Regions from separate parts of the Homo sapiens genome. Here all the other regions are linked to region 1. Evidence: fine-mapped expression QTL. A gene starts in region 1. Each other region holds a variant in brackets. All regions are shown on one strand. Distances are between the middles of the regions. Region 1 holds the start of RECK (reversion inducing cysteine rich protein with kazal motifs). Region 2 holds the start of TMEM8B (transmembrane protein 8B). Region 3 has its middle 37 kb from the start of OR2S2.

The links. PIP is the estimated chance that this variant, and not a neighbour inherited with it, causes the effect.
Region 2: its variant is fine-mapped to the expression of RECK in whole blood (INTERVAL, PIP 0.94).
Region 3: its variant is fine-mapped to the expression of RECK in lymphoblastoid cells (TwinsUK, PIP 0.92).

The regions. Positions count from the first base shown.
Region 1 is chr9:36,029,511-36,039,289 of GRCh38, forward strand. RECK (reversion inducing cysteine rich protein with kazal motifs) reads left to right here and starts at 7,403. Exons shown (of 21, transcript NM_021111.3): 1 at 7,403-7,588. The coding sequence starts at 7,489. RefSeq lists silencers at 7,323-7,522, 7,533-7,682.
Region 2 is chr9:35,825,562-35,834,987 of GRCh38, forward strand. It overlaps TMEM8B (transmembrane protein 8B), which reads left to right and starts at 3,667. Exons shown (of 13, transcript NM_001042590.4): 1 at 3,667-4,394; 2 at 8,900-9,089. The coding sequence starts at 3,887. It overlaps FAM221B (family with sequence similarity 221 member B), which reads right to left and starts at 3,171. Exons shown (of 7, transcript NM_001012446.4): 1 at 2,902-3,171; 2 at 3-600. The coding sequence starts at 600. RefSeq lists enhancers at 536-895, 4,259-4,759 and a silencer at 3,524-3,973. The variant GGT/G (reference allele first, on the strand shown) is at 6,607.
Region 3 is chr9:35,990,208-36,000,486 of GRCh38, forward strand. It overlaps the pseudogene OR13C6P. Among named protein-coding and RNA genes, the nearest start is that of OR2S2, 37 kb to the left of the region's middle. The variant C/T (reference allele first, on the strand shown) is at 5,076.

The DNA of each region.
Region 1 (9,779 bases):
CTAATTTTTCCCCAGTGGAGGTCCGTCACATCCCACAAGTAGTTAATTTGAGTTTCTTTAAAAATATAGCTATTCTAAATAACTTTTAATATGCAAGACAGTGGACATACACGAATGTGTTCTGTTTTTCAATTTTTGACATGCTAGAAGCTACTACCACATTAACATGTGTCCTGTCGAATTGACTCACTTTTGATTAGAACTTGGAATAATTATTTTCCTGCCATCTCTGTGCAATCTTCTTTAAATGTCCTTGATTCGAAAAAAGTGTGGCTCTGCACTTATCTTTTCTCTTTTCTCTGTTTATTACTAGAATAGATTCAGATGTGGAATGATCTTTCTTTAATCCAAGCCTATGCACATAGCTCATGTAAAATTATACAAAGAAGTACAAATATGTGCTGTTCTCAATTAAGTGTTGGGCAAGGCTATGAATCATCTGCTTGGTGCATGTTCTTTTTATGGCATCATAGCCAATTGCACAATAACAAGAGAACATGTCACACAAAAATAATGTGCATTATAAATAGTATGAGGATTAACCACAAATTTTGGTTGCTACTACCTTATAAATAGCATCGAGATTAAACATAAGTCTTGGTTGCTACATCTTTGGTTCTTTTCAATGTGTGATAAGAAATTTGAGCAGCTGTCATATTAGTGAATCAGTTTTTTCAGATTTTTAACATCTAACATTTTTTAAATTAATAAACTTTTTTAGCACACTCTGGTTCACACTTGAGTGGAAAGTACAGTGGGCTCCCACACATCCTCTGTCCTCACATATGCACAACCTCCCCCACTATCAACCAGAGTAGTACATTTGTCTCAATTGGTTAACCTACATCAACACATCATCACCCAAAATCCGTCATTTGCATTGGGGTTTACTCTTGGTGTATACATTACTCTATGGTGTACCCATAGAATACATTCTATGGGTTTTGACAAGTGTATAATGACATGTATCTACCATTGCAGTATCATGCAGATTAGTTTCACTGCCCTAAAAAATCCTCTGTGCTCTGCCTTTCATCCTTCCCTTCCCCCAACCCCAGGCAAACACTAATCATTTTACCGTCTTTATTGTTTTACCTTTTCCAGAATGTCATATATTTGTAATCATAAAGTATGGAGCCTTTTCAGATTGGCTTCTTTCACATAGTAGTATGCATTTAAAGTTCCTTCATGTCTTTTCATGACTTAATAGCTCATTTCTTTTTAGCACTGAATAATATTCCACAGTCTGGATGCACCAAAGTTGTTGTCTTTTTTTCCTCCATTCACCTACTAAAGGACATCTTGGTTGCTTCCAAGTTTTGGCAATTAGGACTAAAGCTGCTATAAATATCCATGTGCAAGTTTTTATGTGGACATAAGTTTTCATGAACCAATATTTAAACAGAAATTTCTCAGTGCTTCATTTTCAGGATACCATCTTAATTTAAATAAAGAGTTGTGTGGGATTGCAAGTTAAGTTATTTCAAAAACGGTGACCCTTGGCAAGGTACTCATCTCTATGAATCAGGATTTTCTCTATAGCAGGCAACAAAAAGAAAATGCGTTAAATAAATCGGAAGCTGGAACATGTGTGACTGCAACAGTCATCCATAATTCCAGAATTCAAGTTTTTATATTTATCAAAATCTTACTCACTGTCTTTGAATTCTCATTCACTGTCTTTGAACTCTCATTCACTGACTTTGAACTACATAATTGCTATAAATTTGAACTTATAAAATAAGTGTAGCAATACAACACAACTTTTTTCTTGTTTATATAGCAGAACTCTAAGATTTTTTTGGGAAAGGAATGATTCTATAGTTAAAAAATAAAAAATAATAGTTTTAAGTTCAAAAATTACTAAAATAAACTGCCAAAGAGAGTAAAGAATGGGGGGGTGGAAATTTTATATTCACAGGCTTACGTCTTTAGAGGGCTTATTGGAGGCTGGCAGGATATTGTACCAGCATCATAGGCTGAGGTCTCAATGCTGAATTTCATAACGTGGGTGTTGGATGCCTAGGAGTAGGGCTTTTCTTCCTCCTCTTAGATCTTACTGTAGGCATCAGTGTGGATGTTAGATATGCCAATTCTGCTCCGAGGCACAGGGACCCTTCGTTCTCCAAGGCCTTACTCCCAGTTATTAAATTAACAGTGAACATGACACACTAGCAATTGGAAAATGTCTCTGGCTGGTAGTTGCTTTCAAGCAACCACTTCTAGAAGGGGTGATCAAATCTTCAATGGACAGTTAGTTGACTCTGCATATCCCCTTCCTGCCGAATGACTAAAACTAAATCTCAGTAAGTTCAGTGGGATCTCAGTTTAGTCAAGGCCTCTCACAAACCCCTCCCCAGCTTTGAGAGGTCTATATAGAGCCAAAGCCAGCAACTGGGACTGGAGAAGAAGACAGGACATGTGGTCCTCAGTCATCATCATCAATCCCTGTTGACATCTGCATTCTCATCTGGTATCCATTTGTACAGATGATTCAAATAACAGATACAGCCTCCTCATTCCAATCTTGAGGTCGCTTCAGGCTCTCAGCTGTCTCCTACCTTGCATCTCTTGAGGGGCAAAAAAACATTTGGCTGCTCTTCTGTGTGGAGCATGAAACAGGACACATTTGCAGCCATTTCTACTCTATACCTACATCGTGTTAAGTGCAGATGAATTTTATGAGGTCTGTCATTTCCTGAGCTCCACACAGCAAGGAGAATCAGATCCCCTCTTATCTCGTAGTCTCAAGCCTTTCTGGGGATTCTATGTCCCACCCCACTGCATCAGAAGAAGGAGACCAGAGACGCCTTCTTTTCCTCCAGTGGCTCTCCTCCTTCCACATCAGAGTGAATCAAATTGCTGGGGACTGAGGGGGTAGGAGGGACTGTGTCTGACTAATCATAGTATTCTTCCATGTCTGTTCTTCATACAAATATTTTATGCTCTCAGCTATAAAATAGACCACGTTCTGATATTTCAAAGGCTTTTTCTCTTTAAAGCCATTGTCTCTGCCTGAAATTTTAAGTGTATGTTTTTTAAAACCAAAAGCTAGGAGTTGTCCTCTTTGACTATTTTTCTACTCTAATGATCATCTCTGAAGATGTGAATGCCTTGCCCTCATGTTTTAGTTCTAATGAAGGAATTACTGGGAACAGAAAATACATTAATATTTCACAAAATTGTCCTACTGTACACATATGAAATCAGATGCCATAAAGTCTTAGTTAACTAACTCAAAATGGACCTCTTCCTTATTAAGCTAGGTCAATTAATCATGATCAAATATGTTCAGGCTAAACAAAGTCAGAAAAAGTATTTCCATTAAAGATTGGCTTTAGAAATTTACTATGCAAAAGTTCTAAAAAACAATACTCCTATTTAATTAAAACTACTTAAACATCTGCCATATTCTTAATTTTAAAAGTTTCTCTTTCTGAAACAGATTCAGGCTCTGCTGCAGGAAGCAATTAAGAAATGAGGATATTTGGCCAGGAATGGTGGCTCACAGCTACAATCCCAGCACTTTGGAAGGCCGAGACAGAAAGATCACTTGAGCCCAGGAGTTCGAGACCAGCCTGGGCAACATAGTGAGACCTCGTCTCTACAAAAAATCAAAAAAATTAGCTGGGCATGGTGGCACACACCTGTTGTCCCAGCTACTCAAGAGGCTGAGGCGAGAGGATCACTTAAACCTGGGAGGTTGAGGCTTCAGTGAACTGTGATCATGCCACTGCACTCCAGCCTGGGTGACAGAGCAAGACCCTGTCTCATTTAAAAAAAAAAAAAAGTTTGTGTGTGTGTGTGTGTGTGTATGTATAAAAGAAATAAGGATAGTCTGTAGTCTCAGACAAAAATATCTGCCCTCATGAAGTAAGGAAACAAATAATAAACAAGCAACACTTTGGGAAAGTAAGTAGTATATTTTATAATATTATATATTAGAACCTATTAATATGGTAGAAGGTAATCATGGCTTTTGAAAATATAAAGTGTGAAAGGGGAGAAGAAGTTCAGAGGTGGGGTTGAGTTTTAATTTTAAGAAGGGCAATTAAGGAAGGCCGTTTGAGTTAAGACCTAAAAAAGAAAAGGGAGAGTGTACAACTATCTGGGAGAAATTAATTCCAAGCAGAAAGAACTCCAAGCACAGAGGTCCTGAGGCAGGAGTTACATGGAGCAGTTAGGGAAAGGCCCTGAGCAAGATTGGCTGGAGGTGATGGCTGGACACGACAGAAACAGTAGGAACTGAAGTCAGAGATAGAAGAAGAGGAGGAAAGGTGCAAGACCTTGAGAACCATGGTTTTTTGGCTCAAAACAAAATCATTGGTGAGTAACATTCTTTAAAATATCGTACTCATCTCTAAGCATTAACCTTTTTTTAGAATGAAAGATAATTACACTACTCTTACAGTGCTTAAAATTGCATATTGGGGCTGGGCATGGTGGCTCATGCCTGTAGTCTCAACAGCTTGAGAGGCCGAGGCGGGAGCATTGCTTGAGTCCAGGAGTTTGAGAACAGAATGGGAAACATAGCAAGACCACATCTCTACAAAAAATAAAATAAAATAATTAGCTGGGCATGATGGCATGCACCTGTAGTTCCAGCTATTCAGGCAGCTGAGGTGGGAGGATCACTGCAGGCCAGGAGTTCAAGGCTGCAGTGCCCCAGGACTGTGCCACTGCTCTCCATCCTGGGCAACAGAAGGACACCCTGTCTCAGGAAAAACATAATTACATTTGTGGTTCACTTTGGGCTCACACGTGTAATTTTAAGTTTTCTGATAGCTACATCTTAAAAAATAAAAAAAATAAGAGTAGATACATGTTATTACACCTTCGTCTAAACCCACAGAATGTACAACACCAAGAGTGAATCCTAATGTGAACTATGGACTTTGGTTGATGATGTGTCAATGTAGGCTCATCAATTGTAACAAATGTACCATTCTGGTGCAGGATGCTGACAGTGGGGGGAGGTTTACATATGTGGGGGCAGGGACTGTCTACCTTCTGTACTTTCCACTCAGTTTTGCTGTCAACTTAAAACGGCTCTAAAAAATAAGGTCTACTTTGCCTCAACCTCCTGCCTCAACCTCCTGAGTAGCTGGGACTATAGGCACGCGCCACCACACCTGGCTAATTTTTGTATTTTTAGTAGATACAGGGTTTCACCATGTTGGCCAGGCTAGTCTTGAACTCCTGACCTCATGATCCACCCACCTTGGCCTTCCAAAGTGCTGGGATTACAGGCATGAGCCACCGCGCCCAGCCCCTGTCAAGAGTTTTAATGCTTTCCAGCAGCCACACATCAAATGATTGCCATCAGGATTAGACAACTTGAAGAACTTACCCCAACTGCCAAAGCCTACATGTGATTCTACATCCCAATGTAACTACTTATTTTTTTTTTTCTTTTAATTGAGATGGGGGTCTGACAACGTTGCCTGGGCTGGCCTCAAACTCCTGGGCTGAAGTTATCCTCCCACCTTGGCCTCCCAAAGTGCTGGAATTACAGGCATGAGCAACTGCGCCCAGCCGCAACTGTTAATAATGATAGCATCATGACTCTTTGGCCCAGTGACTGTGTCAATAGTGGTACTATTACTCTCAGAGGGGAATTGTTAAAATAAATTAAAATGAAGACCAGGTCTGCAGAATTCCTGAGCAGATAGTCAATTTAGTCCTCATAAGTGACCTTAAACTTACTTGAGTTAATCTGAGCTATTTCTTGTAAATGCATATATTAAAGAAAAACAGAACAAGCTCAACCAATCAGAAGTAGTCCACAAACTTGTATAACTAGAGGCTTTTTAGTGGGATAGACCAAATAAGGCAACTTTATAACTGTAACCAATCAAATATTTTCTTTTTATTACTTTCCCATTCACTCTGTAAAAATCTGCTTCTTCGACAGAGCTGAGCCCCAGAACCACTTCTGGTTTGCAGCTTCTCAATTCATGAATCACCGCGTGCTGAAGTAAACTTTAAAATTTTATTGTGCCTCAGTTTACCTTGTACACAGAAGCAACAGAGTCATCAGAGGAGATGTTTTAGATATTTTAACTTATTCATGTTTTCCTTTTGTAAACTCGAAAGAGAGGATAAATGTAAGAGCCCAAAAACATAAAAACCAACTTTAATATATGGATTTTGTTTAGAACTTGAAAAATTGTAAAAAGAAATCATGAGACAATAAGAAAAATGTAAATAATGACTGGATATTTAATAATATTAAGGAATTTTAAAAATGTTTTAAGTAATTTAGCCCCAGGTGTCTTCATGAGAATTTAAAACGGTGGTCATGCTTTTTCAAAAAAGGAGGAAAAAGGGTTTAATTCAGGAACACACAGAGAAAAAAAGAGACAATGAATTAGCTTTGCTAGCCAGTGGCTTAAACATTCTCCACGTAGCTGCTGGGCTGATGGGTGGGGTGGGACCCACTTCCAACTTGTCTCTTGGACAAAGTCTATACTTCTCAGCCGGATATTCAAGGCTTTCCACATCTAGGTATACAAGCGTTCTCCTATCCTCTTTTCCTATCAGGAATAGGTGCTTAATAGTAACATCAAGGCCAGGCACAGTGGCTCACGCCTGCAATCCCCGTACTTTGGGAGGAGGAGGCTGGGGGATTGCTTGAGGCGAGGAGTTCGAGACCAGCTTGAGAAATATGGTGAAACCCCTTCTCTGCAAAAAAAATATAAAAATTAGCCAGGCGTGGTCACCTGCGCCCGTGGTCCCAGCTATTCAGGAGGCTGAGGTGGGAGGATCGCTTGAGCCCGGGAGGCGGAGGTTGCAGTGAGCCGAGATCGCGCCACTGCACCCCAGCTTGGGCGACAGAGCGACTCTTGCCTAAATAAATAAATAAATAATTTTTAAAGTACAACAAAGACACATTGAGGCTATAGTGCCAAAGAGCTCTAGTGATGAACCCTTGTCAGGGGGCCGTGTCTGCGGGAGGCCGAAGGATCCCGGGTGACATGCTTTCTTTGGGTGCGAGGCAGCGTCTCGGCAGAAAGAATATTGCGAGTATTACTGAGGGTACATGAAGGAGAGAAGCCCCTTTGGTTCGGCCTTGGACTAAGCCCTTGTTCTCAGGTGAACTTGCAGTGTGATCTTGAGTAAGGTCAGTCTCCTCTCTCACCTCAGTGGCCCGAAACCTCAGGAGGTGGCAGAGGTTTTCTAATGACTCTCCCAGCTCTGACATCCTCTGACTTCACTCTGGGAGAACGTGGGCTGGTGGACTCCTGGCAGAAGCCGACACACAGTTGGGCCATAACAAAGAGCCCTGGTACGGGGCACGTTCCCGCCCCCGGGAGGTTTTGGAAACACTGTGAGGCAGGGGGCGGGGCTTGAGCGGGCCGCAGCCAGTCACCAAAGGGCCGGGCGCTGGGGGCGGGGCCTCGCGCGAGCGGCGGCGGTAGCGGCGGCAGCGGCTGCGGCCAAGCTGGGTCCGAGCATCCCGCGGCTCTGGAGCCGCCCGGCCCGGACATGGCGACCGTCCGGGCCTCTCTGCGAGGTGCGCTGCTCCTTCTGCTGGCCGTGGCGGGGGTCGCGGAGGTGGCAGGGGGCCTGGCTCCGGGCAGTGCGGGTGAGTAACCTCCAGAGCAACGGTTCGAAGCTGTCGGGAGCGGCCGCCACAGCGCTCCAAGATGGCGCGGGGCAGGGGGCGGGGGTGCGCGCGACCCCCAGACCCTGCCCACGTCCGGCGACCCCGGGACCCCAGGTCTCAGCGCTCCAGAGGCTGGTGCCGAGGCGGGGCGAGTGAGGAACTCTCTCCGCCCCAAGATCTTCTGGGCGGTGACTCGGGTTTGAGGCCTTGGTCTGTCACCCACCGACACGGGCCCCCTCTTCGGCACTGACCCCTTCGCTTGCCTCTGCTGCTTGTCAGAAAAGGGTGCGATGCCCCCGCCCAGGATCGTCGCGAGGTTTAGATGGGATTTCGGATACGCAGCCGCCCTACCGCGGCCCTAGTTAGTTATTGTTACTTGTTACTTGACCCGCACTTGGTTCATAACGACCTTGGTGGCGGTGAGCACTGACGGTCCCCACAGCCCGCGTGGTGGGTCCTGGACTCGGGCAGGAGACATTAAAAATCAGTAAACCCTGTCCCCCGGGGGCTGGCAGGCTTGAGGAGAGAAATTCTTGCTCTACAAGAACTAAACCAAGGATGGATAGGAAACTGTTAAGTGCTTATTGATTGCTTCCCGCTTGCTGGCCTTTTGAGTGCACGCCGACTCCTTCCGTCCAAAAGCTCTCTCGGTAGGAGATGGGGTACAGCAGGAGATTGAAGTAACTCGAATTCAAGGCAGAAATGTCCAGAGGAAATGAAGGGCCATGTATGAGTGCACAGAGGGAGAGAGGACATCGACCTAGGATGAGTGGAAAGTGGAGTGATTCCCCCTAGCTGTACTAGACATTGAAAGATGGCTAGGACGTGTGCATGCAAAAGTGGTGAAGTGCATTGCTTACAGGGAGACAGGCAGAGACACCTTAAAAAAAAAAAAAAAAAAAGCAAAGTCAGCCGGGTGCGGTAGGCTCTCCCCTGTAATCCCAGCACTTTGGGAGGTGGAGGCGGGCGGATCCCTTGAGCCCAGGAGTTCGAGGCCATCCTGCTTAACATAGTGAAACCCCGTTTCTACTAAAAATACAAAAATTAGCCGGGCATGGTGGTGTATGCCTGTTGTTCCAGCTACCCGCGAGGCTGAGATACGAGGATTGCTCGAGCCCCGGGAAGTTGAGGCTGCAGTGATATGCCACTGCCCTCGGAAGTGAGACCCTGTCTCAAAAAAAAATCAAAGTCAGTTCCAACAGGGGTATTAACTATAGCTAGGTTTCAAATTTAGCTGTAAACTATCCCAAAGAATAAAAGAGAAAATGCTGTGTATTCTTGGCTAAATCAGATTACTTTCCTGGGCCCCATTTTTCTCCCTGTTAAATTAAAAGAGATTGAACTGAAACACTTACAAAATTATGAAATACTAGTTGTCCATTCTCCTCCCACAACCAGTCAGTTCTGCAGGAGGTAGTACAGTGGAGTGGTTAAGAACATTGAGCAAATTACTTAGCTTTAATCTTTTTGTGCTCAAATAGCCACATTTATTATAAATGGTACCTCACAGATTTTATTATGAGAATCGAGGTAATACATGTCCAGCATTTAGCGTAGTAAGCAGTGAAATATTAGCTATTAAGTATGTTCGGGAAATACTGCAGATGGTACCCTGTCTTATAAATTCACAAAACACATTAGATTCACAATAAAGGGTCCAAGGATTCCTGTGGTAAAACAAACAAACAAACAACAAAAAAAAAAACAAGAAACTTTTTTGCTGGGGGAATGGCAGTGATTGCTAATGAGTATGAAGTTTCTTTTGGGAGTAATGAAAATGTTCTAAAATTAGATAGTGGTGATGGCTACACAACTCTGTGAATATACTAAAAACAACTGAATTGTACATATTAAAAGGGTTAATTTCATGGTATACAAATTGTAGCTCAATAAAGTTGTTAAAGAAAGAAACTTGTTTGCTCATAAAATTCTTTTTTTCTTCATAACACCTAAAGCGCACTTCAGAAAATGCTGGGTTAGTTGATTTCTAAAGGCCCTTCTAAGCTCTAAAAGTTCATGACAACATATAGTTTGCATTGTTTGATAAAAAAAAAAAATTCCAAGTTTGATCTAAAAGTGAGACATGTTCCTTATACTAAATTCTAGGAAGCATGTATTGCCTGGTTCCTTACTAAAGGACATTGAGTAATATAATGGACAAAGGCTTCCA
Region 2 (9,426 bases), 200 kb before region 1:
GCCTAGTTGGTGTCCAGGTTGGGCTGTGTGAGCAGTGCTGTCACTGGCATCTACTCCCTTTTCAACCTCTCCTGCTTCTTCCTCCTGCTTTTCGGTTGTGTCCACTTGGACCTGGGATGAAGGGCCTGAAAGACAGTGTTCTGGAAGGCTCTCAGATTCAGAGAGATGGGTAGACCTCCTTGTCCATGGGACCTCATTGGAAGAAGACTCAGAGGAGAGGTCTTCCTTCAGAGTATCAGAAGAAGACAGACAGACATAGTCTCGTGATTGGGGAGGAAGAGTAAGGTGTTTCTCTGGCACCACTGAGATGGGACTATCCAATGAAGCCTCATAGGTAGGGGTCTCTGAAGGAGTCTCAGAGATGGAAGGCTCCTGATGGGTTTCAGGGGAATGGGCCTCTAAGGGGATCTGGGAAGGGGATGGCACCAAAGGGGATTCAGAGGTATGGGGCTCTAACGGGGTCTCAGAGGTGGAAGGCTTCAAGAAGCTTTCAGAGATATGGTTCTCCTGTAAGTCCTCAGCAGAGGGGTCCTTTGAAGGGGGGTGCTTCTCTGCATCCATGGTGATATGAGGCTCTTCTATGATCTCATGTGCTTCCATCTAGTGGTAGAACAGGGTACAGGCTTCATTAGGTTGGAAATAGAGGGCCGGCAAGTCAGGGCAGAGCCCAGGGTTCGCAGTGCATTATGGAATTTGGATAAGGATATCAGTGCAGCTGAGATATAAGAGGGAAACAACATGAACTCTGGGTCCTAGAGTGTGATGCCAAAAGGTTCACCCATGTGTCCAGACCTCATATGGCATGCTGCTGTGGCTTGTTAGGGAGCTGGAACTTAAAGATTGAAAGACTGAAGTAGTTCGAATCCCATCAGTAGATGGTAGCAGAGAACCATGTCCCAGGAGGGAGTCTGAACAACACCACTTGGGCAGTCCAAGAGCAGGGTCCTTGGCATATCTTAAAACCCTGGAGGTCAGACCATGGAGTTCTAGAGACTGGCAATACCAAGCCAAAGTTGGGGTTGGCTCCTGAGAGTGCAGGGGAATGCTGTCACATAAGGCAAGACACTGCACGCAGCCTGGTTTTGTCTAGGCACCACACACATCCTCCTCCCTTAATGATGTCATTCATGTTCAAAGCTTTAACTACTTCCAGTTGTGTACCAATGACTCCTAAATTCACATTTCTAGCTCAGACCTTTTTCAACCTCTGTACTTCACACTCATACCCACCTGCCTGCTGGCCTTCTCTTCTCTTCTCTTTTTGTGATGGAGTCTCGCTCTGTTGCCCAGACTGGAGTGCAGTGGCGCAATCTCGGTTCACTGCAACCTCCGCCTCCCGGGTTCAAGTGATTCTCCTGCCTCAGCCTCCCAAGTAGCTGGAATTACAGGCGTGTGCCACCATGCCCGGCTAAGTTTTATATTTTTAGTAGAGACGGGGTTTCACCATGTTGGTCAGGCTGGTCTTGAACTCCTGACCTCAGGTGATCTGCCCTGCTTGGCCTCCCAAAGTGCTGAGATTACAGGAGTGAGCCACCGTGCTTGGCCCCTGCTGGTCATTTCTAACTGAGTGTTTCCACAGACAGCAAAACTGAACTTTGGGAATTATCCTAGTCTTTTCCTTTTCCCTTAGACTCCATCTTCAAATAGGCACCAATAACTCTATTTCCTATCTTCTAAATATTCCCCAAATGCATTCTCTCCTCTCCCTTCCAATTTTATTCAAGTTCTCATCATCTTCAGCCTTTGTGTAATAACTTTGCCCCTCTACTTCCATCCACAGCATTTTAATCCATTCACCCATTCTTTCATGGATTTATGTAACTTATACTTTTACAATGAGCCTAATCTGATGCTTTTACTGACCCGCTGTGCTAAGCTCTAGATTGAGTTGAGTCTAGGAGAGAGACCGATTAACCAACAATGGCAATACAAATAAATTGATGTTGTTCTGGGGTGAGTCTAGGATACGGTGGGGAGGGGGATATACCTAATTTATCCTGCAAGGATGTAGTCCTCCTTCCTGACCCAATCAGGATCTTTCTAAAGTGCAAGCCCAACAACTGGCACTTTGTGGCTTAAAAACATTCCATGACTCAGTCTAAAGGATTAAGTCCAAATTTCTTGGCCCTGGCATTCAAGGCCTGTCATCATTTTCAACACAGCCTGAGGATTCCTGCCTTAACTTTCCGTGCTCCCTACTTTACCCCCATGTTCCAGAGACGCTAGATATATCACTCCTTAAATGCATCAGAGCCTTTTTGAAGGGGATGTTTGGGAAGGGAATTAGGGGCAGAGGTAGGATTACAGGGAGGAAGATGACCAGAGTCAGCTAGAGAGAAAAGGGGCCTAAGAGTGGAGAACCAGAAGATGGGAGGTGAGGAAGGGGAAAGAGAAGGGGAGGAGGAAATTGGGTGGAGGAGGAGAGTAAGGATGAAAAGTACAGAATGTGGGCCAGGCATGGTGGCTCATGCCAGTAATCCCAGAATTTGGGAGGCCAAGGCGGGTGGATCACTTGAGGTCAGGAGTTCGAGACCAGCCTGGCCAACATGGTGAAACCCAGTCTCTACTAAAAATACAAAAATTAGCTGGGCATGGTGGCAGGCGCCTGTAGTCCCAGCTACTGGGGAGGCTGAAGCAAGCAAATCACTTGAACCTGGGAGGCGGAGGTTGCAGTGAGCCCAGATCGCACCACTGCACTCCAGCCTGGGGGACAGAGCGAGACTCTGTCTCAAACAACAACAACAACAACAACAACAACAACAACAACAACAACTACTACTACTACTACTACTACTACTACTACTACTACTACTACTACAACAATGTGAAGGGACTGAGGGGTGGGAGAAAGACAGATGTCTTTGAGGGAAGAGGGCAAGGGCCGTTGGAGAAACCACCTACCCTCTGGGCTTTGGCTTGGTTGTTACAAGTCCTTAGGTCAAGACCTTGACTTAGGATGGCAGGGGGAGGTGTTGATCCTCAGGGAGGAAAGGCTCTTGGTTGTGGATGTGCCTCAGCTGCAGGTGCTGAGTGTTGAAATGCCTTGCCTGAAAGTCTGCTATCTGGGAAGGGGACTTGGATATCTGCAGAACTTCGCAAAGGAGCTCTGGCATGACCTGGGGAAGTGGGTAGGGACAAGGGGTCTAGGGCCAATGAGGGAGGGTCTTGACTGAAGCCTCCGGAACCCGGGCCAGGAGAGTAGGCGCCGGTCACCAGGGCAACCGGAACGCCTAGTAGTCTCCGTGGCAACGGCGGTCTGGTCACCTCCCCGGTGGGTAAGGTCTCCTGAGGGGCTTGCATTGGGCCTCGAGGGGGCGAGCCCAGAGGGTTTACTTCTGAAAAGTGGGGTGTGTGTTGCGGGATCTCTGTGAGCGAGTGTTTGGGTAGGATCTGCGGAGATCTGTGCGTACGTCCGGGGGAGTCTGGGATTGTGAGGATAGGGTTCCTTTGAGACATCTGTGGGGCGGTCGTTGGGGGCTGTGAGGATCTGAGGGGACCTCGGGCTCTGTGCTTGGGGTGAGAAAGGCAGGGTCTCGGGTAGCTGAGGCGGGGGCGGAGTCTGTGTGTCCTCGAAGCCCAGCAGGACTAAGTTGGGGACCAATAGAGTAGGGCGGGGGCGGGCTTTACTGACAGGGACCAATCGAGCCGGCCGGGGGGCGGGGCGTCACGCCGACGTCAAGTCGAGGCCGCCGCCGCGGGGCCTGGTTATCGCCGGTTCAGCGCAGCCCGGAGTCGCCCAGGCCTGAACTCCTACCCAGGTCCCCGGCCCCCGCCCCGGGCCCGCGAGGACACCGGAGGCCACCCCCCGGGGGTGGGGAGCGGAGCCGCGGGCCAGCTCTGCGAGCGCCCCGCGCTGGCCTGTCCGGCCCCGCCCCCGCCCCGGGCCATGGCCCAGCCCTTGTCCCGGCCCCTCGTCCTATCCCAATCCCCGCCTTGGCCCCCAGCCCCGCCCTCGCCCCGCTTCCCACATCGGCCCCAGCCCCTGCCTGGGTCCCCATCCAGGACCCCCTTCCAGTCTCTGCCCCTGGCCTGGCCCCCATCCCGGCCTCGGCCCTCGTTCCACCCCCTGTCACAAATCCCAGCCCAGGCCCTGTCCCAGCCCCATTCCCAGTGTTTGCTTAAGGCCCTGGCTCAACCCCGTCCCTTGCTGCAGTCCCCATCACAGCCCTTCCTTCCATCCCACTCCCTGCCCTTGTTCAAGCCCCAGTGTCCAGCCCAGCCCAACCCATTATCTCAGCCTTTGCCCTCATCTCTGTGTTTACCCAAGTCTCTCCCTCTAGTCCCCCCTATCTCTCATACTCTGCCCCTCTCCCAGCCTAGACTCAAGTCTGGGTTTCAGCTGCCGCCAGCCCTATTGCTGCTGTTGCTGTTCTCTGTCCTTGGCCCAGGGGCTGGTGAGTGCAGAAGCAGGGAAGATTGAGGCAGGAATGGGGTTCCGGCAGGGAGGGGTGGGCTGGAGAGATTCAGGAGAGGTGGGACCTGGGGAACTAGATCATTGGGGAGCAAGTGGGAGAAATAGAGAGTAGAGAGGTCTTACACAACAGGGATTGGCAGGGTCAAAAGAGTGGTAATTAATTGGGTTTGAGGCTCAGCAGGTGGCTTACAGTTTCTAGCACAGAGACTCCAAGATTTTTTCTGGTGTCTGTCCTGACCCCACTTTGACTCTTGCTTTTCCAGGGAAATGTTGTGGGCTTTGCTCCTGCTCACAAAGTTTGATGGGGGAGAGACAGTCCCACACCAGAAGCCCCTAGTGTAGTGTGGGAATATATAGCCCAAACCTTTGAGATATTGGGCATGCATTCAAACGGCATGAAGAAGAGTTTTAAAGATAATATGTAGCAAATAGATGAATATGGATTAGTTGCCATTATAATGAGTTTTCTTCTTGTAATGATTCTTGTTCCAAAGAAGATTGATTTGCCTAGGAATAATTCCTGATACTTTTAGAGCAGGGCTGAAACTCGGAGGCTATTTTACAGATGGGGAAACTGAGGCTCAGGGAGGGAGCAATTTGTCCAAAGTCAGAGAGCTTGTGAATGGCAGTGTGCTGGGGCTAGAAAAAAGGTTTCCTAATTCCTATTTCATACTAGTGTGTTTTTTTTTATCCACTGCAATGTATACTTAATAGAAAAATAGACCCAAGTGGGGAAAGGCTCAAAGCATAACCTCCCTTCTCCCCGGTCTGCCCACAAGGGTGCTTTATCCACAAACTGTTCCTTATTTGCCAGGCGTCAGCCAAGGGCCACCCTCCGGTGGGGAAGTGACTTGGACAGAAGAGAGAGAGGTCCAATTTTTTAATGGTTGGAATGTGGGAGGAGGAGGGGGTGTCCTGGTCTAGGGGATGTGCCATGAAGATGGCTCCATCATGGAGTGACTGTAGTCTTCATGGCCCAAGTCTGTAGCCACCTCTGGTGGGTGTCACTCTAGATAGGATGGAGATGTGCCTGATGGAGTCTTTGGAAATAACAGCCAACAGAACAGCTGGGGGGTGGAGAATGGGTATCAGTGAGCTCTGGGGGCCTGGTTCAGTGTACAAACTTAAGGAGACGAATGCACGTGAAAGGTCACAACCCCTGCAGAGATGTCTGGTCACTTATGTGTATGTGTGTAACTGAGGGATTGTGGGGAGGCTGGCAGCATGTGTACATGCTTGTGTGTTGTTAAGTGTAGACACGTGCATGTGTGTGGGGTGCATGTGAGCCAGTGTATCTTCTGAGCGCCTGTGTTATGGTATGAAGGGGAGGGGACATGTTGTGGCCCATGTACATTCCTCTTCAGCTCTGCCTCCTCCTCATATGGACAGATCACTGAAGCTGTGAATGGGGCTGGAGACCCTTTCTCAGCAGTTCCAAGGGTGAGGGCAGTGTTGCATGCCTCCCATAACGAATATAAGTTATCCATCCATCCCCAGCCAGTGCCTTTGAAGGAAGGAGCTGTGGAGGCACTCTGTGTTGATTACTGCTGCTGGCAAATTGGACACTGGGCAGAGGCAGTAGCCAGTCAGGTTTTCAGTTTTGGTAAGGGGAAGTTTATGCTGTTGGGCCAAGTTCCTAGCTTCCATCCTCTGCCATCATGGCTTCTTCATGTGCCCATTGAGCAAGCATTGGGCTGGTGAGGGGAGCAGGGTGACCGACAGCCACAGAGCATATACAGCTGAAAGTTGTGGATAAAAACACTGTTGCCCAGAAGCAGGTTCAGGTGCTTTGGGGAGAATTGTAATGAAGTTGGAAAAGAGTACCAATACACCCAAATGGAGGCAGGGCTGCCTTTAGTGCTGTTAATAATGAATGCCTTGGCAATTTTGGACCAAAGTACAGGGTGCTCTGTGACCTAATGGTGGTGATGGGTTTTGTCTGAGGAGAGGCTGGCAGTGTCATAGGACCATCATGGCACAGGGCTGCACAGTGCTTATTGGTTGCTTCGGTTTCATTTCAGGAATGGAAGTTATCTCTTGGGTCTAGTGGTCCCACTCCTGATCCTTGGATCTTTTCCTTGGGCTTAGTTGAGGACTCACACGTGCCTTGCTATTCAAAAAAAAATGGGCTTTTATTCTACCTAGTGCTATTACTAGCAGGGCCAGCCTCAGCCTATGTGTGTAGGTGTAGG[GGT/G]GTGTGTGTGTGTGTGTGTGTGTGTGTGTGTATGTGTATGTGTGTATGGGGTGGGTGATGGTCGGAATTACCCTAGCTTCATCATAGAAATATTGGGGAACCTGGAATAAGTTCATCTGAACTCGGTAAGGGCCTTACTCATGCTTCTTCTGGACACAGCTCTGGTAGGCCCTGTTCAAACCGCAAACCAAAGTTTGGAGTGAATGGGGCTGTGGACCCTTTCTCAAGCATCTGCCCTCAGAACTTCTTCCAAGTTCCTCCTAGCATTCCCAGCTGCTGCTCACTCCTTTATCTCACTGGCCTATTCTGTGACCTCTGTAGCCCCTGGCCACTGTGGGGATGGCTTAGCTAGTTCCCCAGTTCCCCAGGCCATACTGTGATCCTTTGAATTACAAGGATCTTTGTGCTTGTCTGTCCATGTTTCCCAAAGGTCATTAAACTGCTTTTCACCACTAGCCCTCATCTGAGGGTCTGCACCGAGGGACTGACCAACATTTCTCCTAACGGTAGCAATGGTTGATCAGATGACCCATCCCTGGTACCAGCTTTGAGGAGGATCAGCCCTTCCCTAACCCCAGCAGAAGGTGCGCTAGAGTTCTGATTTCTTCTAACAATAGTATCCAGGCTGTTCACCTCTTAGCCTTCTGCCTCCTACTTAGCACAGCTAGGGTTCCTAGGAAACCCGTCTCTTCCATCAGTCGGTCCCATTTCCCTTTATCCCTCTCGGCTGCATCTCTATCACTCTCTGAATGCTGCACTGGTAGCCTCTCTGGGTTCCTAGGCAGTGCTCAGCTTGCAAGGTGACAGGTTTTCCTTCCTGACAGTTGAGACTGATCATGTGGTCTGAACTGGACAGACTAGTCCTTGAGTGTAACCGTGGCCTCCAATGGCCCCCACCTATGTAGGGCAGCTCTCTGGGGTGACTCCTGGGGTTGCTCTGGTTCAGTGTTCGTCCTTCAGCAGCCTCCCCTTCCCTTTCTTTGTTATTTCAAAAACACCTCATTTTTGGAGTTAATCTCTCCCATCTCCAGAGAGGGAGATGATTGGACTAGGTTAGCCCTGAGGGTATTTCCTGCTTGGCTGAAAATGCCCCTCCAGAGTAGTCCTTATTCCAGCCCCGGGTCTGTCCTGAAGCTGCTGAGTTCCCCACCTTCTCACCTGTCCTGGAGGTGTCATCTTGGGCTTCTTTTCTGGCTGGTCCGAAGTCTCCAGAGCAGTCAGATTCCCTAGAGGTTTACTTTGAGAGACCTTGCCTGCCATTTGGGACCCTCTTCCCCTGTCTGCTACTGGTTGCCTCCACTGTGACAGCTATTCTAGTCCCTTGCCTGGCTAGCTGCTGACACAACTTCTGCTCACCTTGGCTCTGCTCCTGACAATCATGATCAGGTATCTTGGCATTTTAATGAGGGATGACCACTTCCTCCCCACCTCCCAACTCGGCCTGCTCTGAATATTCCCAAGGGGCTTGAAATCCACTGGGTCACTAACTCACTGCCTCACTGGGCTTCCCTTTGGGGGAACATTCCCCCGGCCCCCACCTACTAGCTGTGCATTCTGACCTGGGAGGCCTGATGACTCTCCTTTCCTGGGGACTCTCATGGTGGCCTGCCAGCTCCTGTCCTTGCTTTTGCCACCCAAGCAGGCCCCTGGCAGCCGTACCACACTTTCCCCTCCCCTCTCCTGCCCTGAGCCAGTATACAGGCAGCGCTTGTGAGGCTGCTGAGGGTTTTTACTGCTCCTAACCACAGGGGAACAGAAAGGGGAAGAAAATCAACAAGGAAGTTACACAGTTCCATGCTGACTCCCAAGCCCCACAGGTGGAGTTTCAGCCTGCTCAGTGGCTTAAGACGCCATGCCAAAATACACACACACACACACACACACACACACACACACACACACCTTCCACACATCTGTTTTTTTTAGGTTTGGTAAGTGGAGAAAATGGCTCCTAAGTGAGGAGGCAGCTGTGAAGTCAAAGGGTCTTAGTTTTGGATTTAGAGAGAGCTAGGTTTGCATCCTCAGTTTGGTCTAGGTTTGAGCCTCAGTTTCCTTATCTGTAAAAGGAGGGTTTTTTTGTTTTTGTTTTTGTTTTTTTTTAAATAAGATTAACGTAAGGATTAAACCAGATGATGGCTAGGTTTCAGATCTGCAGCCTGAAACCCAGTTCCTGGCTCAGAGGAGAGCATTTGTGGAGTTGATGCTATTGGTGAGGAAGACTGGCATGCCTGTTGCTTAATGGAAATGCCCTCTGTCCTGCCCTGCTCCTTTCTCTCTCTCCTGCTTCCCAGGAGGCCTTTTCCTGACTGATTACTCCACCTGCTCACCCCGCAAGCTGAGTCCTTTCCGCTCCTTTGCCAGCACCGAGCTCTTCCACTTCCATGTTCCTGAGGACACATTCCTGGCTGTTTGGAACCTCATCATCTTCAAGGAGCAAGGGGGAACTTTTGGGGACCACTGCCCAGACCAAAGTGTGACTGTGTGAGTGTCTGAGTTAATTTCCCAACCCCACTTCCAATCCCTGACCACTTTCCAGACTAAAGTGTGACTTTAACTGACCTCCCGACCCTGACCCCAACCCGCGTCCAGATTGAAGTGTGACTGAGTGAGGGCCATGACCTCTGTCACATGACCACTTCCGGACTACTGTATGACTGTGCAAGTGCTTGAGCTGATCTCTCACCTGTGGCCCCTGACCTGGAACCACTTTGTTGAATGTGTCAGTATAGGGAATCTATTTGTTTTATCGGTGAAGAGTGACAGTTCTTTTCTTTCTTTCTTTCATTTCCTGCCTCCCACCCCATTGTCTGCTTTCCTC
Region 3 (10,279 bases), 39 kb before region 1:
TTAAAAGTTTATGTCAGAAATTTTCTATTCTGCTGATCCTTTTAACTGGACTTCTAGACTGATCACTATTTGGAGCCGACTTGGAATTCCTCACAATCATGTGGGTGATTCTTAGATGTCCCCTGATGGGCATTATTTCTGTCTTCCTCTGACTATTACGTGGCCTCAGGGATTCTTTAGTGGAAAACAAGTGATGGCTGCCACTTGGCTGCATGCTTGGTTAAACCAGGTCAGGTGATTAATACAATTTATTTGATCCTCCTGGACTTATCTCAGTTTTCGCATTACTCTGATGGCTCATGAGAGGCCACTGGTATCTAGGACAGAGCCCAGGAATGAACAATATCTTCCAAAAGAAAAAGAAAAGAGGATTGTGCCCTTGACCCTTGCATCAGTTTTGTCACACCTTCCTTACTCCCCTCTCTTCTCCAAGAGCATTAATGATTTTCTGGTGAGGACTCTGAGTAAGGACAAGAGAGAGACAAAGCTACAGGTTAATTTATGAAGATACAGAGACAGAAAAATTCAGCAAACAGTTTTAAGAATTTATATGACAACCAGAAAAAAAACAATGAGGAGAAAAATAAAACTAACTATTATGTAATATGGAGTAGGAAGATCTTGAAAGGTAACATAAAAGTAAGGACCCACAAGAGTTTCTATATTCTTTTAAAAGTGCTCGCTTACCTTTTCAACAAATGTGTTGATTCAAATTACTTCTCTGGGATCTGGGAGTAGTCCAGAAGCCAAAAATAGCCAATCTGGTCAGAAAGCAGCAGCCAAATATGTTCAAAGAAAGAAGCCGTGGAGCAATTGAATCAAAGACCTACAGACTAGAGCTTTTCATTCATCCAACAATAAAAATGTGAAGAGTTACTTTTCCTTGACATCAATTCATTCAGTATCCATCATGGAGAATGAGAACTACGAGGCTAGACAAACAAGAACATACTTTGGTGGAGTTGCATTAAATGTGTCCTGTTCCTACAGAGCCCTTCTATGTAATGAGATTCTGTGTAATGAGATTTACCCATGTAACCTTTGATCAACTTGGTCTTTCATCTTGTCCTCTGGGACTCTCAGGTGGGAGCAGTCAGGAAGCACAGAGCCATCAGGACCCCTCCACCATCACTGCAGGAAGCGTTTCTGAAATACCAGGTTCCTCACAGCAGCCTTCACTTCCTTGTTCCTCAGGCTGTAGATGATGGGGTTGAGCATGGGGGTCACCACCCCATAGAAAAGGGAAATGAGTTTGTCTGCAAGGTCCTGTTTGTCTGCTCCCAGTGGGTCCTTAGACTTGGGCTTCCCGTACATGAAGAGGATGGTCCCGTAGAAGACGATCACGACAGTGAGGTGGGCAGAGCAGGTGGAGAAGGCCTTTTTCCTCCCCTCAGCTGAGGGGATCCTCAGGATGGTGGCAATGATGAAGACATAGGAGAAAGAGATGAACAGAACAGGGACCCCCAGGAAGATCACATTGGCCACTCCCATACTGATCACATTGACAGAGATATCAGCACAGGCCAACTTCAGGACAGCCAGAATCTCACAGGTGAAGTGATTGATGATGTTGTCTCCACAGAAGGGCAGCCTCAATGCAAGGGGTGTCTGCACCATGGCAGTGAGGCTTCCAGCTACCCAGGAGCCAGCAGCCATGGGCACATAAGTAGCTTTGTTCATGACTTCAGGGTACCAAAGGGGGTTGCAGATGGCCACGTAGCGATCAAACGCCATCATGCTCAGGAGAACACACTCTGTGGCTCCCATGGCAAGGGAGAGGAACATCTGTACTGCACAGGCTGAGAAGGAGATGGTTTTCCTGGGGGTCAGGAAGCTGTCAAGGATGAGGAGGTTGTATAGCAGATGTCCAGGAAGGAGAGGTTCCCCAGGAAGAAGTACATGGGTGTGTCCAGGCGGGAGTCAAGGATGGTCACCAGGATGAGGACCCCATTGCCCAGTAGGATCACCAGGTACATCAGCAGGATGAGCACGAAGAATGTCTTCTCCAGCTTTGGATGGGCAGAGAGCCCCAGGAGAAGGAACCCCAGCACAGGGGAGGTCTGATTGGAACTGACCATGGTGTTTCTATGTCACTTGTACAAACTCAGAGGGCCAGCTCCATGATTCTCTGATGCCTAAAGTGCCCAGACAGCCAGTGAGGAAGCCCAGACTTGCTGAGCAATTGGAGAACAGCTCTGACAATTCAAAGGTTTCTCGATATTGCTTTAAGTAAAATGCAGGAAATTTGATCAAAATCTACTTGGTGGTATTTGGCCACCCCATAGAGAGGTTTCAAATGTCACCTGATTAGATTTAATTTTCCTCATCACATTTAAGACAGGCATCACACATTTACTTCAAGTTACATGTGTGGATGATTCATTTGGTTCAATTTTGGCAAGAAATGTTATATTCCATTTGTATGTTTTTTCCCCTTGGGACCTAGGACTGGTAGAAAAAACTGGTACTCCTCATCCTCAATCCCTGACCATTCTGCTCTGTGAGCACTTTTAAAAATTATTATTATTATTATTTGAGACAGAGTCTTACTCCATTACCTAGGCTGGAGTGCAGTAGGGCAAATACAGCTCGTTGCAGACTCAAACTCCAGGCTCAAGCAATCCTCCTGCCTCAGTCTCCCAGGTAGCTGGGACCACATGCGTATGCCACTACACCTGGCTAATTTTTAATTTTTTCTGGAGACGAGGTCTCACTTTGTTGCCCAGGCTGGGCTTAAATTCCTGGGCTCAAGCAATCCTACCACCCTGGCCTCCCAAAATGCTGGGATTACAGGCGTGAGCCATGGCACCCGGCCTGTGAGCAATTTCAGATGCTCTCTGCCTCCTCTTTACTAGCACTTCCAAGATCTACAGAACCCTGGGCTATTTGTCCACCCATTCATTCACTCACTCACTTGCCAGACTCTTCTGGAGCACATATTTACAGGACTGGCATTTGCCAACCAATCAATGCATGGGCATCGTGAAGTCCTTTTTCTTCTCTGAACTTCATTTCCTGGATGCTTACTTTGGAATAGATTATTATCAGAGATATTCCATCCCAGGGACTAAATGATCTCATGAATTTCTCATTCTTGGACTGTTGCACCATGGAGACATCCTTTTCTATTTCCTTCAAAATTCCCCCATGCCACTTAGTCACCAGGTATGCTACCGGGGATGGAGCTGGGCCCACAAGAGTTTCTATATTCTTTTAAAAGTGCTCGCTTACCTTTTCAACAAATGTGTTGATTCAAATTACTTCTCTGGGATCTGGGAGTAGTCCAGAAGCCAAAAATAGCCAATCTGGTCAGAAAGCAGCAGCCAGATGAGTTAGTGCCTGAAATGGGTGGACGTTTTCTTGTCTTTGTTCTGTGTTTTGGTAAAATCCACAAAAGACTAATCATTGCTCATACAAAGCCACTTAAATCCCATCCTGCTATTTGGAGTATTCTAGTCCCCAAAGTCATTTAAAGTTTGGAAATTCAAGTTACCAAGTCAAGAAACTTCTTATACATCTGGGATTGTGTCCCCATGATCCAATTACTCTGAAGTCTCTCCAGAAATACTTTCTTCTCTCCTTCCCTCTCTTCCTACCCATTTTGCTGGGCTATTGGAAAGTATTAGAGCGGAAGGATCATCCTGGCCCTCCCCAAATTAACAAGAACCCCCAGTCCATGAGAACTGTCACCAGAGTCCATGATAGATCTGGGGGAATAGGAAACCACACAGGACGAATCCTTGTGGGTTAGTCCCCTTGGCCATTTACAAATTCAAAGGGTTCAGGATCTCAGGTTTGTATGAAAGCCAGTGACCCAGAAGATCTCTTGTCTGCATCCCACCAAATAGGTTCTGCTAGGCATACCCTACCCAGACCAGACCTTTAAAGGGTCATAAGTGAATCTGGTCATGGCTTCTACCAGAGAGTTTCAGAGGCAAGGCAGCTGTGGACTTAAAAAAGAACAGTTGATCACGGAAGTGGTGTCCTGTTGCGAACAGCTCAGTCTTTTCCTGTGTGTGTGTGCATGAGTATACTATATCTGTGCATTTGTGAGAGCATCGCTGATTTACCACTGGGATCTGGTAACCTCCACTTCTAAGATCCAAAGCTGAGAGCTGTGACTGCCCAAGCAGCAGCCAGAAGCATCTTCAATGTGGACCACTGTTTTCTGATACACTATAGTTTCTTAATCACATTCCAGTTTTCCCTTTCCCATTTAATTTGAATACCGGAGATGGTAGGTGGCACATATGATGAGCTCTCATTCCACAGATGTTCTTGGTGTGCAAGAAGAGCCTGCCCAGTGTTAGCAAAAACACTTGGGCAATCCTAACCACCTCTTTCACAAAGGAACATGCCTGCCTTATACATACACTAGCTCTAAAAATCCTAGAATCAAATACATGCCACATTCGTAGTCATAAGCCATTTTGTCTTGCATTGAATTTTTTTCTTTTTGTGAGATATATTACACACACAAAAGAATGTAAAAAGCATATGTATACCATTTAAGGAAAAATAAGAAAGTATACTACCATGTCCCCCCCCCCAACCCAGGTTAAAATTAGGATGTTCCAGAACCTTAGAAGCCCCTCTTATTTCCCTATCCAATTAAATTTCCTTATTCCCTCCCTTCCAGAAGTGACCACTATTTTGACTTCTATGGAAATCATTTTGTGGTAGGCAGAATCTTCATGATCCCCATATGATCACATAATTCCCTTCGTGTGGTGATCAAACATTAACCTAGGTACTGCTGTGAAGGGATTTTGTCAATGTAACTAAAGCTCCAAATCAGTTGTCTTTAAGATTAGAAGATTATCCAGCGAGGTCTGACCTAACTAATCAAGTGAGCCCTTTAAAAACAGTTTTCTCTGGTTAGTAGCAGAAGGAGAAGCCAGATTCAAAGTGTGGGAAGAATTCCACATGCTGTTTCTTGATTATAAGATGGAGGGAGCCGCAAACAAGAACCAGAGAGCTGCCACAAGGAGCTAAGCATGAGCCCTGGTGACAGCCAGCAAGGAAACTGGGACCATAGTCTAAAAAACACAAGGAATTGAATTCTGCCACCAATA[C/T]CAATGAACTTGACTTTTTCTCAGAGCCCAGCCTAACTCACCCAACCTTCTCACTTCCAGAACTGTGAGCTAATAATTAGGTGTTTTAAGCTGCTGATATTGGGGTGGTTTATTATGCAACAAGAGAAAGCTAATATATATTCCCTTTATTTCCTTCACAGTTTTACCTTCTACAATGTATTGGTGTACAATGAATTGTTCCATTTTGAAAAATGGAGTGACAATTACAAACCTAGCTTTTTAAAACAATACATTTAAGGGGTACAAGTGAAGTTTTGTTACACAGATATACTGAGTTGTGGTGAAGTCTGGGTTTTTAGTGCAACCATCACCCAAAATAATGTACATTATGCCAATTAAGTAACTTCTCCTCCCTCAGCCCCCCTCACCATCCCACACTTCCTAGTATCCAATGTCAATTATTCCACACTTTATGTCCATGTGGACACACTGGTATTTGACTTTCTGTTTCCGGGCTGCATAACTTAAGAGACTGGACATCCAACATGGCCAGTTCCATCCATGTTGCTGCAAAATACATGGTTGCCTTCGTTTCTATGTCCAAAGAGTACTCCATTGTGTACGTAGATGACATTTTCTTTATCCAATCATCTATCTATAGATGCTTAGATTTATTCCATCTTTGCTGTTGTGAATAATGCTGCAATAAATGTACCAGTGTGGGTATCTTTTTTTACGTAATTAATTCTTTTCCTTTATGTAGATACCCAGTAGTGGTATCTACATAAAGGAAAAGAATTAATTATGTAATGGTGAAACCCCATCTCTACTAAAAACACAAAAATTAGCCAAGCGTGGTGGCGCATGCCTGTAATCCCAGCTACTCGGGAGGCTAAGACAGGAGAATCACTTGAACCCAGGAGGTGGAGGTTGCAGTGAGTAGAGATTGCGCCATTGCACTCCAGCCTGGGCAATACAAGCAAAATTCTGTCTCAGAAAAAAAAAAAAGAATTAATTCTGTAAAAAAGTAGATTGAGTGGTAGTTCTATTTTTAGTTCTTTGAGAAATCTCAATCCTGTTTTCCATTGAGGTTGCACTGACTTGCCTTCCCACCAACAATGTACAAATGTTTCCCTTTTTTCTCACCCTCACTAACATCTGTTATTTTTTGACTTTTTAATAATAGTCATTCTGACTGGCAAATCTAGCTTTTTGATGAAAAAAAAATATTGTCACTGTTTTGGGGAAGACTCTCCTGAGAATCTAAGCTCTCAGTTTCAATAGTCCCTTCCGGGTAAGTCAGACAGTGCTGCAGTGTGGCCAGGTACCAGACATCTGGCAGAAATATCATCAGAGAGAGTGGATTGTTTTATGTTTTCTGCTTCTAAGCTCTGAGTATGGCCCTCTTCCCACTCTTGGGAATAGATCAAAGCAGAATACTCTCTGGAGTGGAATGAGTGTCCTCTACTAACCCAGTCAGCAAGACATGGAGAGAGAAGAGGGCATTTTATACATGCATGGCCAAGATAAGGCCAGTGCAGGAAAGAATGTGGGCCAGGCTGTCTGGGGCATTCTGTCCTCAAGTTAATCACCATAGGCAGCAGGGGTCTATGAATAAGAGCCCTTGACATGCCTGTCTCTGGAGTCATAGGGCTGCCCTCTGGGCTGGCTGTCTTCTCTGCAGGGTGTACAACTGTCATGCCAGGATCTCCTTTTACTGTCCTGGGGACTCCTTACACCTCTCTTATGGGTTGGAACTTCTGTTTCTTTTGTCAGTTTCTTTCTATTTCTTGGTTTATTCTCTTATTTTGATAGAGCACTTTCTTGAATAACTTCTTTTTTTTTTTTGAGATGGAATCTCATTCCGTCACCCAGGCTGGAGTGCAATGGCGCAATCTTGGCTCACTGCAACCTCCGCCTCCATGGTTCAAGTGATTCTCCTGCCTCAGCCTTCTGAGCAGCTGGGATTACAGGCGCATGCCACCACACCCAGCTAACTTTTGTATTTTTAGTAGAGGTGGGGTTTTGCCATGGGCACCAGGCTGGTCCTGAACTCCTGACCTCAGATGATCCACCCACCTCAGCTTCCCAAAGTGCTGGGATTACAGGCATAAGCCATTCACTCAGCCTTGAATAACTTCTTGAGAAAAAGTGTATTATATACACATTTTTGAGATCTTATGTGTCTGAACATATTTTTATTTAACCTCCTGAGTGATAATTTGGTGGGTGTATTAGCCAGGGTTCTTGAGAGAAACAGTACTAATAGTGTGTGTGTGTGTGTGTGTGTGTGTGTGTGTGTGTGTACGTGTTATAAGGAACTGGCTTATCTGATTATGGAGGCTGACAAGTCCCAAGATTTGCAGTCAGCAGGCTGGTGGCCCAGGAGAGCTGATGAAAAAACTAATGTCCCAGCTCAAAGGCAGGAGAAGTTCCCTCTTACTCATCCTTTTTGTTCTATTCAAGACTTTCACTGATTGAATGAGGCTTAGTACATTAGGGAGGATAATCTGCTTTACTCCATCTATGCATTCAAATATTAATCTCATCCAGGTTCTCCCTCACAGACATATCCAGAATAATATTTGACCCAATATCTGGGCACCCCATGACCCAGTCAAGTTGACACATAAAGTTAATCAACACAGTAGTGTGTGGAATTCTAGGAACTTATTGGAAATCATCTTCCCTCTGAATTTGAAGGTAATTCTGGTGCAATCAGAAGCCATTTTGATTCCTGATCTTTTATGCTAATTGTTTTTTTACTCCATGAAAGAGTAAAGTACCCATACTCTCAACTGTGGCTGTTGTCTGCCAGTCCAGAGAGCCATGATTTTACCCTCCAGAGAATAAAAGTTTTGTTGGGGTAGGCAAGAGATAGTTGACTAATGTCATGGAATGAATGAAGGGGTGTAGGGACTCTGTTTCTTATACATTTGTCACCTAGTCTTCCTTTTTTAGTAGTACTTCCTTCACCCCGGTCCTAGAGGTACTTGGTACAGTGAGTTTCTCTGTGCTACAAATCTAGTTGTTATCAATTACTGTGGTTTGAATATCCCCTCAAAAACTCATGGTGAAATTTAACTGCCATGGTAACAGTGCTGAGAGATGGGACCTTTAAGAGGTGATTAAGCCAAGAGGGCTCAGCCTTCATGAAGGGGTTAATGCCATTATTGCAGGAGTGAGTTATTGCAGGAGTTTGGCCTCCTTTCTCTCCTTGTTTCATGTACTTGCTTGCTCTTTCACCTTCTGCCATGGATGATGCAACACGAAGGCCTTCACTAGATGCCAGTGTCATGCTCTTGGACTTCACAGCCTCCAGAACTGTGAGCCAAATAAATGTCTATTATTTATAAATTACCCAGTCTCAAATATTCTGTTAAAGCAGCAGAAAATGGAGTAAGACACTTACTTTTCCAAGTTTCTGGCTTGGGATTTGGCTCTGTCAGATCTGCTATGGCAATTAGCACTAGTTCATCTGCTTCCTAACTTTCACAATGTTCTTGCTGTTGATATCTTACTTCTTCTGCTTAACCTTGTAGATTTTATTGGAAAGAAAGAAAGACTATAGTTTTCATGGGTTTTAGGAGGAATGAAATTAGATGCATGTGTTCAGTTATCCTTTATGCAGTCTTGATTCCATAAAATTTCTAACATCCTATTTATTTTTGTAATTGTTTATTGCTTATTTCTCTCCTGTTAGAATACAAGTTTCACAGAGGTAAGTTTTTTTCTGTATTGTTCACAGATGTTTCCTTAGTATAAAAATAGGGCTTCACTCACAACTGACTCTCAATACATAGATGCTGAATAAATGAATGAATGAATCTGTGGCCTACCCTCATTTTCTTCTGATTTTGTCCCATGTTTGCTCTTTTTTTAAAAAAAATTTTATCTTTGTCCTATCTTTTTGAACTTCTATTTTTGTAAACATTGTAAATGTCCATAACATATTGGTACAGTAGAATACCTATAAATATATAGGTATTATAATATATACCTATTATATATATTATATATATATATTTATATAATATATATTATATATATAATATATTATTATAATATAAGTATATAGGTATTATAATATATACCTATAAGTATATAATATATACCTATAAGTATATAGGTATATATTATAAATCAATAAACAAATACAGTTTAAATTGTAAGGAAGCATGATATTAAAATGTTGGCAACCATGGACCCCAGATATGTAGTTTTTGACTGTGACTCCATCCTTCCAAATATTTAACAAACCTCTTTTTTCTAAGTGGCTCTTACATATTGGAAACATCTATTTTGAACAGAGCAGGCATGCAGAATTCAGGAATTTGGACGCCATTTAGAGGTGATCTGCCAGCTTCCTTCTTGTCTGCATCATGTCCCCTTCTTTGCCAAAGTGCCCTGGTGAGCAGGGGCTTGTGACTGCCCTCATCAAGATTTAGGAAAATCATTCCCAAGCTGCAAGATGCCCTGAGGTTCCAGTCTGGAATCTTTCTTTCCAGGCTTGAATTTATCTTGCAACTCTTTCCTAGCCCACTGCCACCCAATGCCTCACTCCCAGACTCAGATCTCCTGCAGGAAGCTCAGGAACAAGCGAGAGAAAAGGGCCTACAGCCCACATCATCACCTCAACTGTTATGGTCAGCCCCAGTACTCCCAGACACACACCACTGGATGACTTGATTGAATTCTGCTCTTTACAGAAGGTGTGCTCAATGTTAACTCCTGACATCATTATGTGTGTATAACTTCAAGCCATCTCCAAACATTTCTGGAATGAGGAGACAGTACATAGAAGAAGGAGATACAGGTATAAAATCAATGAGATTAGGTAAAAAATCCATAGCTCTTAATTTGAATTGTCTGTCTGTATGTATGATTTATATATTTGATCTAAATCTAAATATATATTTATATATCATACATACATATAATTCAATTATATATATTTTTTCATAGCTCTTTCCACTGAAACATTTAGAAACCATGGGAAACTCAATAGTAAACCTAGCACCCAGATTATGACTTCTAAATACCATTCCCCATTAAACGAAAAAAGAGCTCGTTAGACAAAATAGTTGTTTCAGGTCTGGGAAGGAAGAGTGAATATTGAGCTTGTAATATCTTGACATATCAGATAGCAGGAAGTCATCAAAGATACTAGCGTCATGCAAAAGGTCTCAGGAGCCATGAGCTCATAACTCCAGTAAAAAAAAAAAAATTAAGTAACTAGATCT